Linked DNA regions of Homo sapiens: region 2 is linked to region 1. A link means that fine-mapping ties the variant in region 1 to the expression of a gene that starts in the linked region. Tissue or cell type: neutrophils. Region 1 holds a variant in brackets; the other region holds the start of a gene. All regions are shown on one strand. Distances are between the middles of the regions.

Region 1 (5,000 bases):
CATCCCACCACATCCAGCTAATGTTTGTATTTTTGGTAGGGATGGGGTTTCACCACGTTGGCCAGGCTGAAGTCGAACTCCTAGCCTCAAGTGATCCTCCTGCCTCGGCCTCCCAAAGTGCTCGGATTACAGACTTGAGCCACCATACCGGCTGTTACTTCAGTATCTTCTGAGTGAGTAACAATAGTGGCCCTGACACAGCCTGTAAGCGTGGGTGTCATTATCCTCATTTTCCAGATGGGAAAATTGAGGCCCCTAGAGTGAGTCGGAGCCAGGCTCCTTCCCTGCAGCCCTGCACTCCTCTCCTCCCAGCCTGGGGCACCTGGAAGGGCCCCTGTACCAAGCCTGGTGGCTGGACCTCCTTCCTCCCTCCGGAGGTGACCTCATCCCCAGACCCTGGGCCCGCCCCCAGAGAACTGGAATTGGGAAGTGAAACCAAAACCAGCCTCTCCTGCTGGTTTCTCTGGAACTAGGGCCTGGGAGGGTTTGCGCAGATTCCTGGGGTCCTTGGGGAGGTCATCCGGGGGCAGAGCATGAACTGTGGACTCCAGTGAGAAGGTCCCTTCCTGGCTGGACTCCCTGTTCCTGCTGGCCAGTCTGGGTTAACCATTGTTGGGGCCAGGCTGCCTGGCCTGGGGACCTCGGGCAAGTGACTGTGCCTCTCTAGGCCTCAGTTTTCAGAAAACAGGGATAGTGGCCAGGAGTGGTGGATCATGTAATCAATCCCAGCACTTTGGGAGGCTGAGGTGGGAGGACTGCTTGAACCCAGGAGGTCGAGGCTGCAGTGAGTCGTGATCGTGCCACTGCGCTCCAGCCTGGGCGACAGAGCGAGACCCTGTCAAGAAAAAAAAAAAAAGGCCGGGCGCGGTGGCTCACGCCTGTAATCCCAGCACTTTGGGAGACCGAGGCGGGTGGATCATGAGGTCAGGAGATCGAGACCATCCTGGCTAACATGATGAAACCCTGTCTCTACTAAAAATGCAAAAAAAATTAGCCGGGCGTGGCGGCGGGCGCCTGTAGTCCCAGCTACTCGAGAGGCTGAGGCAGGAGAATGGTGTGAATCCGGGAGGCAGAGCTTGCAGTGAGACTCCATCTCTCAAAAAAAAAAAAAAAAAAAAAAAAACAATGAAAAGAAATGAAACAGAGAAAGAAAGGAAAAGAAAAGAAGAGGCTGGGTGCGGTGGCTCATGCTTGTAATCCCAGCACTTTGGGAGGCTGCAGCGGATGGATCACCTGAGGTCAGGAGTTCGAGACCAGCCTGACCAACATGGTGAAACCCTGTCTCTACTAAAAATACAAAAATTAGCCGGGCATGGTGGCACGAGCCTGTAGTCCCAGCTACTCGGGAGGCTGAGGCAGGAGAATCACTTAAACCCAGGAGGTTGAGGTTGCAGTGAGCTGAGATCACGCCACTGCCTTCCAGCCCGGGTGACAAAGCAAGACTCCGTCTCAAAAATAAAAAATAAAAATAAATAAAAAATTAAAAAAAGAAGAGAAAGAAGGGTAGTGAAAGTTCCTGCCCATGGCCAGGCGTGGTTGCTCACACCTGTAATCCCAGCACTGTGGGGGGCTGAGACAGGCAGATCACTTGAGGTCAGCGGTTCAAGCCCAGCCTGGACAATATGGTGAAACCTTGCCTCTACTAAAAATTTAAAAATTAGCCGGCTTTGGTGGCACGTGCCTGTAATCCCAGCTACTCAGGAGGCTGACGCACGAGAATCCTTTGAACTCAGGAGGCGAAGGTTGCAGTGAGCCGAGATCCCGCTACTGCACTCCAGCCTGAGCGACAGAGTGAGACTCTGTCTCAACAACAACAAAACAAAAAAAAAAAAAAAAGAAAGAAAGTTCCTGCCTCACAGGCTGCTGTGAGGATAGAGTTCATGTGTGGCACCAGCAAAAGCTCCGTCTATTCTGAACCACTTCCTGCTTCCGCAGCTTCAAAGTGAGGACTGTTCCTACCTTTTCCACAGCTGTTTCTGCTACTTGGAATGCGCCCCTCCACACACTGCTACCCATCCGTCAAAACCTCAAAGTTAATGTCCTTCCTTCTGAAGCCCATTTGTGCCATCTGCCCACTCACAGGAGTGTTTGTGTCTGATTCTGAGGGTCGTCTCGGGATTGTGGGGGAGCTCCCCAGGACTTGTTAAAGGGCAAAGTGAGTCCTTAGCCACCAGCCCCAGACTTGGGGGTGAAATACAGAAGTGGGTGCCATTGCCAGGGTAACCTTCACTCAAGTCACCTGCTCAGGCATCAAGAGCGGCTGCCTGGGCTTCTGCTCCCAACAGACCCTCCTGACCCTCCAGGCCCACCCAGGTGGCCCCCACCTCTCAGCTCCCAGGGCAGGTGCCCTCCCCGAGGCGGGGAAGAGGGGTGACGGTGGACGCCTTGGTGTCCGGTTGGACCACCTGGTTCCCTGAGGTCTGCTTTGGAAAAACATAAAGCCTTCGGTTGCTGTTTCTGTTTGTTTTCTTGTTTTGGTTTGTTGTTGTTGTTTTTTGTTTTTTTAGACAGACTCTCGCTGTGTCTGGAGTGCAGTGGCGCGATCTTGGCTGACTACAGCCTCTGCCTCCCGGGTTCAAACGATTCTCCCACCTCAGCCTCCCAAGTAGCTGGGATTACAGGCGTGCGCCACCACGCTCGGCTAATTTTTGTACTTTAGTAGAGACGGGGTTTTGCCATGTTGGCCAGGTTGGTCTCAAACTCCTGACCTCAGGTGAGGAGGCCTCCCAAAGTGCTGGGATGACAGGGGTGAGCCACCGTGCCCGGCCCGCCCAGAAATTATCTTACGCGACTGTCAAAGAGCTTATCCAACTATTATGATCAAAGAGGCATTTGGG[G/A]CCCTGGGCTCCGCTCAGCAACCAATCCCAACGTAACCACAAAGGAAGGGACAGCCGGTCCCCTCCCTGTCTGCCGCCGCCTCAGGTACCCCAGGAATAGCCTGGACATAGGAAACATGAAACTCCAGTCCCCAAGCTGTGCCTGCTGCGGAGCCTGCCACCCTCAGACCACTGGAGATCCACTGCCTCTTGCAAAAAATGTCATCACCCAGATCCTGGGTCCAACCACCCATCCCAGTCATTGTTCCCAAGGGTGAGGAGGCACCCGCCTGCCCCTCCTGCCACCTGGAATTCCAAGAACTGAGCAGGATTCCTGGCCCTGCCTGCTGAAATGCCACATGTGTCCCAAATGCCAGGACGCAGCCGGCACTTCTGTGAGGGCAAGAAGAGCAGGGAAGGAGGCCGGCTAATCTTCAGGCCCAGGGTCCGGGAGGGGAGAGGAGGGCCGCTGGGAGGCAGCCCTGCAGTCTTATCGATGGGCACTGGGGCAGGGTGACCCAGCCCATGACGCCAGCCTCCTGCCCTCCCAACAGCCCTCTCTAATCAGGGCAGCTCCCCCAGACCTAGGGGGTCCCTGACCCTGGCCAGACAGATAGAGGCAATGCAAGAACAGGGCAGAGACCCCTGACCCTCCAGTCCCACCCAGGCGGCTCCCAACTCTCAACTCCCGGAGCAGCACCCTCAAACTGCTGACGCACCAGGTTGCCCTGGCAGAACACACAGAGAGAGAGGAGGCTCTAGGGGGCCTGACTGTCCCTCAGCCATAGCTGTCCCAGTTGGTCACCCTAATAGACGAGCTCAGGCTAGACAGACTGACAAAGGAGGCGCTGAGCAGTCACCACCAACCCTCCAGAGGGTTCAGGGTGGCCCGGGGGCTCAGACAAACAAAGGCATTCCCACTAGAAAGTCATGTAGTCAGATGGTGAGGGCCCCGCAGGTCAGACAGCAGCTCTGAGGCAGACAGGGGAGGCTGGACCAAGGGACAGACAGAGGGGATACGGGGCAGTTAAACAGACAGATGGGGGAGGCTCATGGCTCAGGCAGATAGAGAAGCCCTGCACAGTTGGACAGATGGGGGAGGCACTGCACAGTCAGACAGATGGGGGAGGCACAGCACAGTCAGACGGGGGAGGCTCAGGCCATGGGGCAGAAAGACGGGGGATGCTGGATGGTGGGACAGGCAGGGGAGGCTCAGGAGTGACACCACAGAGGGGCCACTGGGTAGTCAGACAGACGGGGGAGGCTCAGGCCACGGAACAGCCAGAGGGGTGAAAACTCAGCTCATGGGGCAGACAAACAGGGGAGACTTAGGTCCCAGGCAGGCAGAGAGAGGGGGCTGGGTGGTGGGACTGATGGAGGAAGCTCAGGCCATGGGCACAGACAGACAGACAGGGGAGGTTCGGGCCAGGGGACAGACAGAGGGGTGAAAACTCAGCTCATAGGGCAGACAGATACATAGGGGAGGTTAAGGCCGTGGACAGACAGTGCAGGGAAGCTCGGGCCACGGGACAGACAGACCGAGGGGAGACTCCGATCCTGAGGCAGGCAGACGGCGGGTGGTGAGTCAGAGGGAGGAGGCGCCCGGGTCGCGGAGTCTCGGAGGGGCTGCCCGACAGGTGGCGGGGCCGGGACGCTTACCGACCAGGTGCCAGGCCTTGCGCGGGCCGTAGCGGGCGCAGCAGCTGGCGGCGCGGTCGGCCTCGTAGCCCACGAGCGGTGTGCACAGCCCGTCGGCCACCTGGCCCAGCAGCAGCAGCAGCCCCGCGCCGCGGGAGCTGTAGGCGCGCACCGAGTGCAGGTAGAGCAGCAGGTAGGTGAACCACATGGACGCGCACAGGTCGTTGAGGAAGTGGCCCACGGCGTAGCTCAGCCGCGCCACCAGGGACAGCGGCCGCGGGGACGGCGCCGCTCCGGCCGCTGGGGGTCCCGGGCCCATCGCGGCGCCGGGCCCGCGCCCCCCACCCCCGGGCTCCGCGGAGGGTACCCTGGCCAGGCCTTCTTGGGTGCCGTGGGGGCAGGCGCCGGGGACCCCCACCACGCGCCGGGCACCCCGCGTCCCGCTCTCTTACGGCCGCGCCCTCACCCACGTCCGCCGCGTCCGCCCCACGCTCGACTCTGCAGCCGCCGGGCCCCAGAGCCGGGCGACTGCGCCGGGCGGGGCAG
Region 2 (5,195 bases), 400 kb before region 1:
TGAGTCTGAGGGGCCTAGGGGGACTCCACCTTAGCTGGCAGACAGAGGTGGGAATGGCCAGTGCAGCACCCTAACCCTAACCCTAACCCAGCAGAGCAATGGCCAATGTCAAAGGTCAGGAAAGGAAAGGTCAAGAATACAGTGAGAAGAATGACTCTGGGATTGGCAGTTAGAGGGTCACTGGTGACCTTAGCAAGATCTGTTTCCATGGGCTGATGGCGGGGAGCTGAGCAGGGGTGCAAAGTCATGCCCAGAGACAGCGATTGTGTTTGACCTACCCCTATTTGGCCTTCCTTTCCCTAAATCCCCCAAACCTATTGTTTTGGCCTCTTCAATAGTCCTTACTAGGAAGGTTCATAATTTATCTGTTTTCTGTGGGTCTCCTCTACAAGATGGAGAGCCTCACAAGGTTAGGGGCTGAGTTTGATTCTTCTGCTTCTTTAGTGAATAGCTAAAGGTCAGAGTAGAAGTTGGTAAATGTGGGTGGATGGTTGGAAAGATGGAATGGGGGCAACCCGCTCGGGTCCCCTTCCACGCTGTGGAAGCTTTGTTCTTTCGCTCTTCACAATAAATCTTGCTGCTGCTCACTCTTTGGGTCCACACCACCTTTAAGAGCTGTAACACTTACTGCGAAGGTCTGCGGCTTCATTCTTGAAGTCAGCGAGACCGAGAACCCACGAGAAGGAACCAGCTCTGGGACACAATAGTAGTGTTAGTACCCAAGGATGACTTCTATGGGAGAGATACTTGGTCTGGGAATCTTTAAAAAAAAAAAAAAAGGAAAGATGGAAGGGAATGGATGGGTGGATGAATGGGTGGATGGATAGATGAATAGATGGATGGATAAGTTGAGGGATAGATGAGTGGATGGATGGAGTGGCAGGATGGATGAGTGGATGAATCAATGGATAGATGGATGAGTGGGTGGATGGATGAATGGATGGATAGATGGATGGATTGAAAGAGGGATGAGTGGATGGATGGATGGATGGATGGTTAGATGGGTGGATGGGTGATACATGAATGGATGAGTGGGTGGATGAGTGGATAGATGGATAGATGGGTGGATGAATGGGTGGATGGATGGGTGAATGAGTGGATGGATGAATTAATGGGTAGATGGGTGGAAGGGTGATGGGTGAATGGATGGGTGGGTGGATTGGTGAGTGAAGGATGGATGGATGAGTGGATAGATGGATGGGTGGGTGGGATGGATGAATGGATGGATGAATGGGTGGGTGAATGCATGGATGGATGGGTGGATGAGTGGATGGATGGATGAATGAATGGGTAGATGGGTGGCAGGTGATGGATGAATGAATGAATAAATGGGTGAATGGGTGAGTGAAGGATGGATGGATGAGTGGGTGAATGGATGGATGAATGGATGAGTGGATGGGGGTGTGGGTGGGTGGATGGGTAGATGGGTGGACGAGTGAGTGGATAGATGGGTAGATGGATGTATGAGTAGATGGATAATGGGTGAACAGATGGGTGGATGGATAGATGAGTAGATGAAGCGATGGATGGATGGGTGGATTGAGTAAATGGGTGGACAGGCAGGTGGATGATGGATGGATGAATAGATGGGTAGATGGATAGACGGATAGATGGATGGATGAGTGAATGAATAGATGGATGGGTGGATGGATAGATGGATGGATGGGTGGGATGGATGGATGGATGGATGGATGAATGGGTGGATGGATGGGTGGATGAGTGGATGGATGGATGAATGAATGGGTAGATGGGTGGTGGGTGATGGATGGATGGATGAATGGGTGGATGGATGGGTGGATGAGTGGATGGATGGATGAATGAATGGGTAGATGGGTGGTGGGTGACGGATGAATGGATGAATGGGTGGATGGGTGAGTGGATGAATGGATGAGTGGATGGGTGGGAGGGTGGGTGGATGGGTACATGGGTGGATGAGTGAGTGGATAGATGGGTAGATGGATGGATGGGTAGCTGGGTAATGGGTGGACAGATGGGTGGATGGATGGATGGATGAGTAAATGGAGAGATGGATGGGTGGGTCGGTGGGTGGATTTCGTAAATGGGTGGACAGGTGGATGGATGATGGATGGATGGATAGATGGGTAGATGGATAGATGGATGGATGAGTGAATGGCTGGATGGGTGGATGGATGGGTGGGTGGATGGATGATGGATGGATGGATAGATGGGTAGATGGATAGATGGATGGATGAGTGAATGGCTGGATGGGTGGATGGATGAGTGGGTGGGTGGATGGGTGGATGGATGAGTGAATAAATCGATGAATGGGGTGGGTGGGTGGATAAAAGTTTAGGAGTGAAGGTAGAGGCTGGGAAATCATGGGGAAGTCTGGGCCAAGGAAGTGATTTTTAGGTGTGGCCCAGGAGTGAGACGAATGAATGGAGTGAGGGCTCAGAGGACACTGAGACCCGAGATGAGAGGTGATGCCCACAGTTCCCAACTGGTCAGTTGCTGATCCCACTCCCGTCTCAGTCTCCAGAGCCCCCTCTCGACGGCTGCTTACCCTGTCTGGCTCTGGATGTGGGGTTTGAGGGACTCTGAGGATGCATGGGAGGAGTGGGTCTCAGGGATCAGGAGACACATCCAGCAGCTGCAGCCTAACTGCTTCATCATCAGTCCCGGTTTCCCCTCCTGTGCAATGGGGCAAGTCCCTTCTTGCTTGAGGCCCTGGGCCGGGCCCGTCCAAAGCCTCTGTTCTGGGACTTCCTGAGTAACGGTTGCATCCCCAGGGAAATGACGCACAGATGGTTATCAGCGACCCACATTTCTCAGAAGAGAGAGAACAGGAAGGTGGGGGCAGGGTTCAGGCTTTTGTTACGGTGCGTGGGGCTGAGTCACAGATGGAGGGGAGGACGTGTGCTCTGGGAACAGCCCTCATTCCCATCTGTGTGGCCACTGGACATGCCCATGGCCAGCCAGAGCACAGGAGCCCCATAGCACAGATGGGAAAACTGAGTTTTGGAGATGTTTGGCAATTTCCTCCGCCGGGTCGCCCAGCCAGCACCAGGGCACATCTCAGATCTGTCCAACCTGCTCCCCTCTAATATGGGGGTAGAAAGCAGGCAGCCCAGCACAGTAGAAGCTTGGGAAAGTCCCCGCTCCTCCCTGGATCTCAGGCTTCTCATCTGTAAAATGGGCGTAAGACTCATCCTTGCCTCGCGGGAATGACATGGCAAATCCACGAGAGGCTAGCACCTATTCTTGCTGTCGCTATTATGGATCTTGGCATATCCCAGACGTGATGGGGGTTGGGGGTGTCACGGAGCAGGCTCCTGAGCTCTGAAAGGGGGCACCTCGGTTCCCTGTAGGATCGTGGACGTCGGGGGCCAGAAGTCAGAGCGTAAGAAATGGATCCATTGTTTCGAGAACGTGATCGCCCTCATCTACCTGGCCTCACTGAGTGAATACGACCAGTGCCTGGAGGAGAACAACCAGGAGGTGCGCCACCGCCTCCCTCGCCCTGCCCACTTGTTGGCCCAGGGACCCTCACCTGAGCAGGAAGCTCTGGTGCAGAAAGGGAGGGATCCCTGCTCTTGAACGGGCCTGTGTGTGCCCAGCATGGCTATGAACTTGACCCTTCAGCCTTTTGTGGTCAGATTGCAGCAACCCAAGACACAGACCTACAGCATTTGTTTGGTCAGGACCCCAGACACACACACACACACACACACACACACACACACACACACTACAGTGCACACACGCACATACACAATGCATGCACACAAACACGCACAGACACGTGCATAATACATGCACATACACACGTGCACACACGGGACACATGTACACACGCAGTGCACATGCACAACACATGCACACGAACACACATGCACCACACACATGCACACTTGCATGCACTCACGTGCACAATACACGCATATGTACACATGCGCACACACATGAACACACACATGCACACACACAGTACACACATGCACACGCACACACAGGCACACACACGCACACACAGGCACACAGGCACACACATGCGTGCACACACACATGCACGCACACGCACAGGCTGGAGTGCAGTGGCGCGATCTCGGCTCACTGGAAACTCCGCCTCCCGGGTTCACACCATTCTCCTGCCTCAGCCTCCGGAGTAGGTGGGATTACAGGCACCCGCCACCACGCTCGGCTAATTTTTTTTTTGTATTCTTAGAAGAGAGGGGGTTTCACCATGTTAGCCAGGATGGTCTCAATCTCCTGACCTCGTGATCCGCCCGCCTCGGCCTCCCAAAGTGCTGGGATTACAGGCGTGAGCCACTGTGCCCAGCCAATAGCCTCTTTTAATAAGTACACCAGTCGTCTAGGATCAGGGCCCACCCTACTCCAGTACGACCTCATCTGGGTTAATTCCTCGTGTGATGGCCCTGTTTCCAAAGAAGGTCACAAACTGAGGTTCTAGGGGGTTAGGTCTTGAACGTATGAATTTTGGGGAAATATGATGTACCCCATAACACAAGGCATTTGAGACCTTATTGTACTTTTTTTTTTGAGATGGAGTCTCGCTTTTGTCGCCCAGGTTAGAGTGCAGTGGCGCGATCTCAGCTCACTGCAACCTCCGCCTCCCGGGTTCAAGCGATTTTCCTGCCTCAGCCTCCCGAGTAGCTGGGTTTACAGGCACCTGCCATCATGCCCGGCTAATTTTTTGTATTTTTAGTAGAAACGGGGTTTCACCATGTTAGCCAGGCTGGTCTCCAACTCCTGGCCTCAGGTGATCTGCCCGCCTTGGCCTCCCAAAGTGCTAGGATTACAGCCGTGAGCTGCCGCGCCCGGCCAGGTCTCCCTCTTCTTATGAGGACAGCAGTCACGGACTTGAGGGCCACCGTATTCTAGTATTGCCTCACCTTAACGACCTCTTCAAAGACCCTATCTCCAGGCCAGGTGCAGTGGTTCATGCCTATAACCCCAGCACGCTGGGAGGCCAGGAGTTCAAGAATCTCTCTCCAGATAAGGTCACACTCTGAAGCTCTGGGGGGACATGAATTTCGGGAGGACACACTTCCAACCAGCACAGGCACAAAACCATGTCAGGCACACCCAGGCAGCTGTCCATATGGAAACACGGGCACACCCGCCTCAGCCCCAGCCAGGCAGATAGGGGTGAGCCCATGCCCCTGGAGCCAACAGCCCCGTCTCCGCGATGGGAGGGTTTCCTGTCCCACCTG

The links. PIP is the estimated chance that this variant, and not a neighbour inherited with it, causes the effect.
Region 2: GNA15-DT starts here. The variant in region 1 is fine-mapped to the expression of GNA15-DT in neutrophils (BLUEPRINT, PIP 0.95).

What each region holds. Positions count from the first base shown.
Region 1 is chr19:3,552,631-3,557,630 of GRCh38, forward strand. MFSD12 (major facilitator superfamily domain containing 12) reads right to left here and starts at 4,956. Exons shown (of 10, transcript NM_174983.5): 1 at 4,476-4,956. The coding sequence starts at 4,773. RefSeq lists silencers at 4,382-4,551, 4,732-4,801, 4,842-5,000. The variant G/A (reference allele first, on the strand shown) is at 2,838.
Region 2 is chr19:3,152,494-3,157,688 of GRCh38, forward strand. It overlaps GNA15-DT (GNA15 divergent transcript), which reads right to left and starts at 2,682. Exons shown (of 4, transcript NR_110670.1): 1 at 2,525-2,682. GNA15 (G protein subunit alpha 15) reads left to right here. Exons shown (of 7, transcript NM_002068.4): 5 at 3,330-3,459. RefSeq lists enhancers at 2,298-3,255, 2,543-2,872, 2,913-3,002.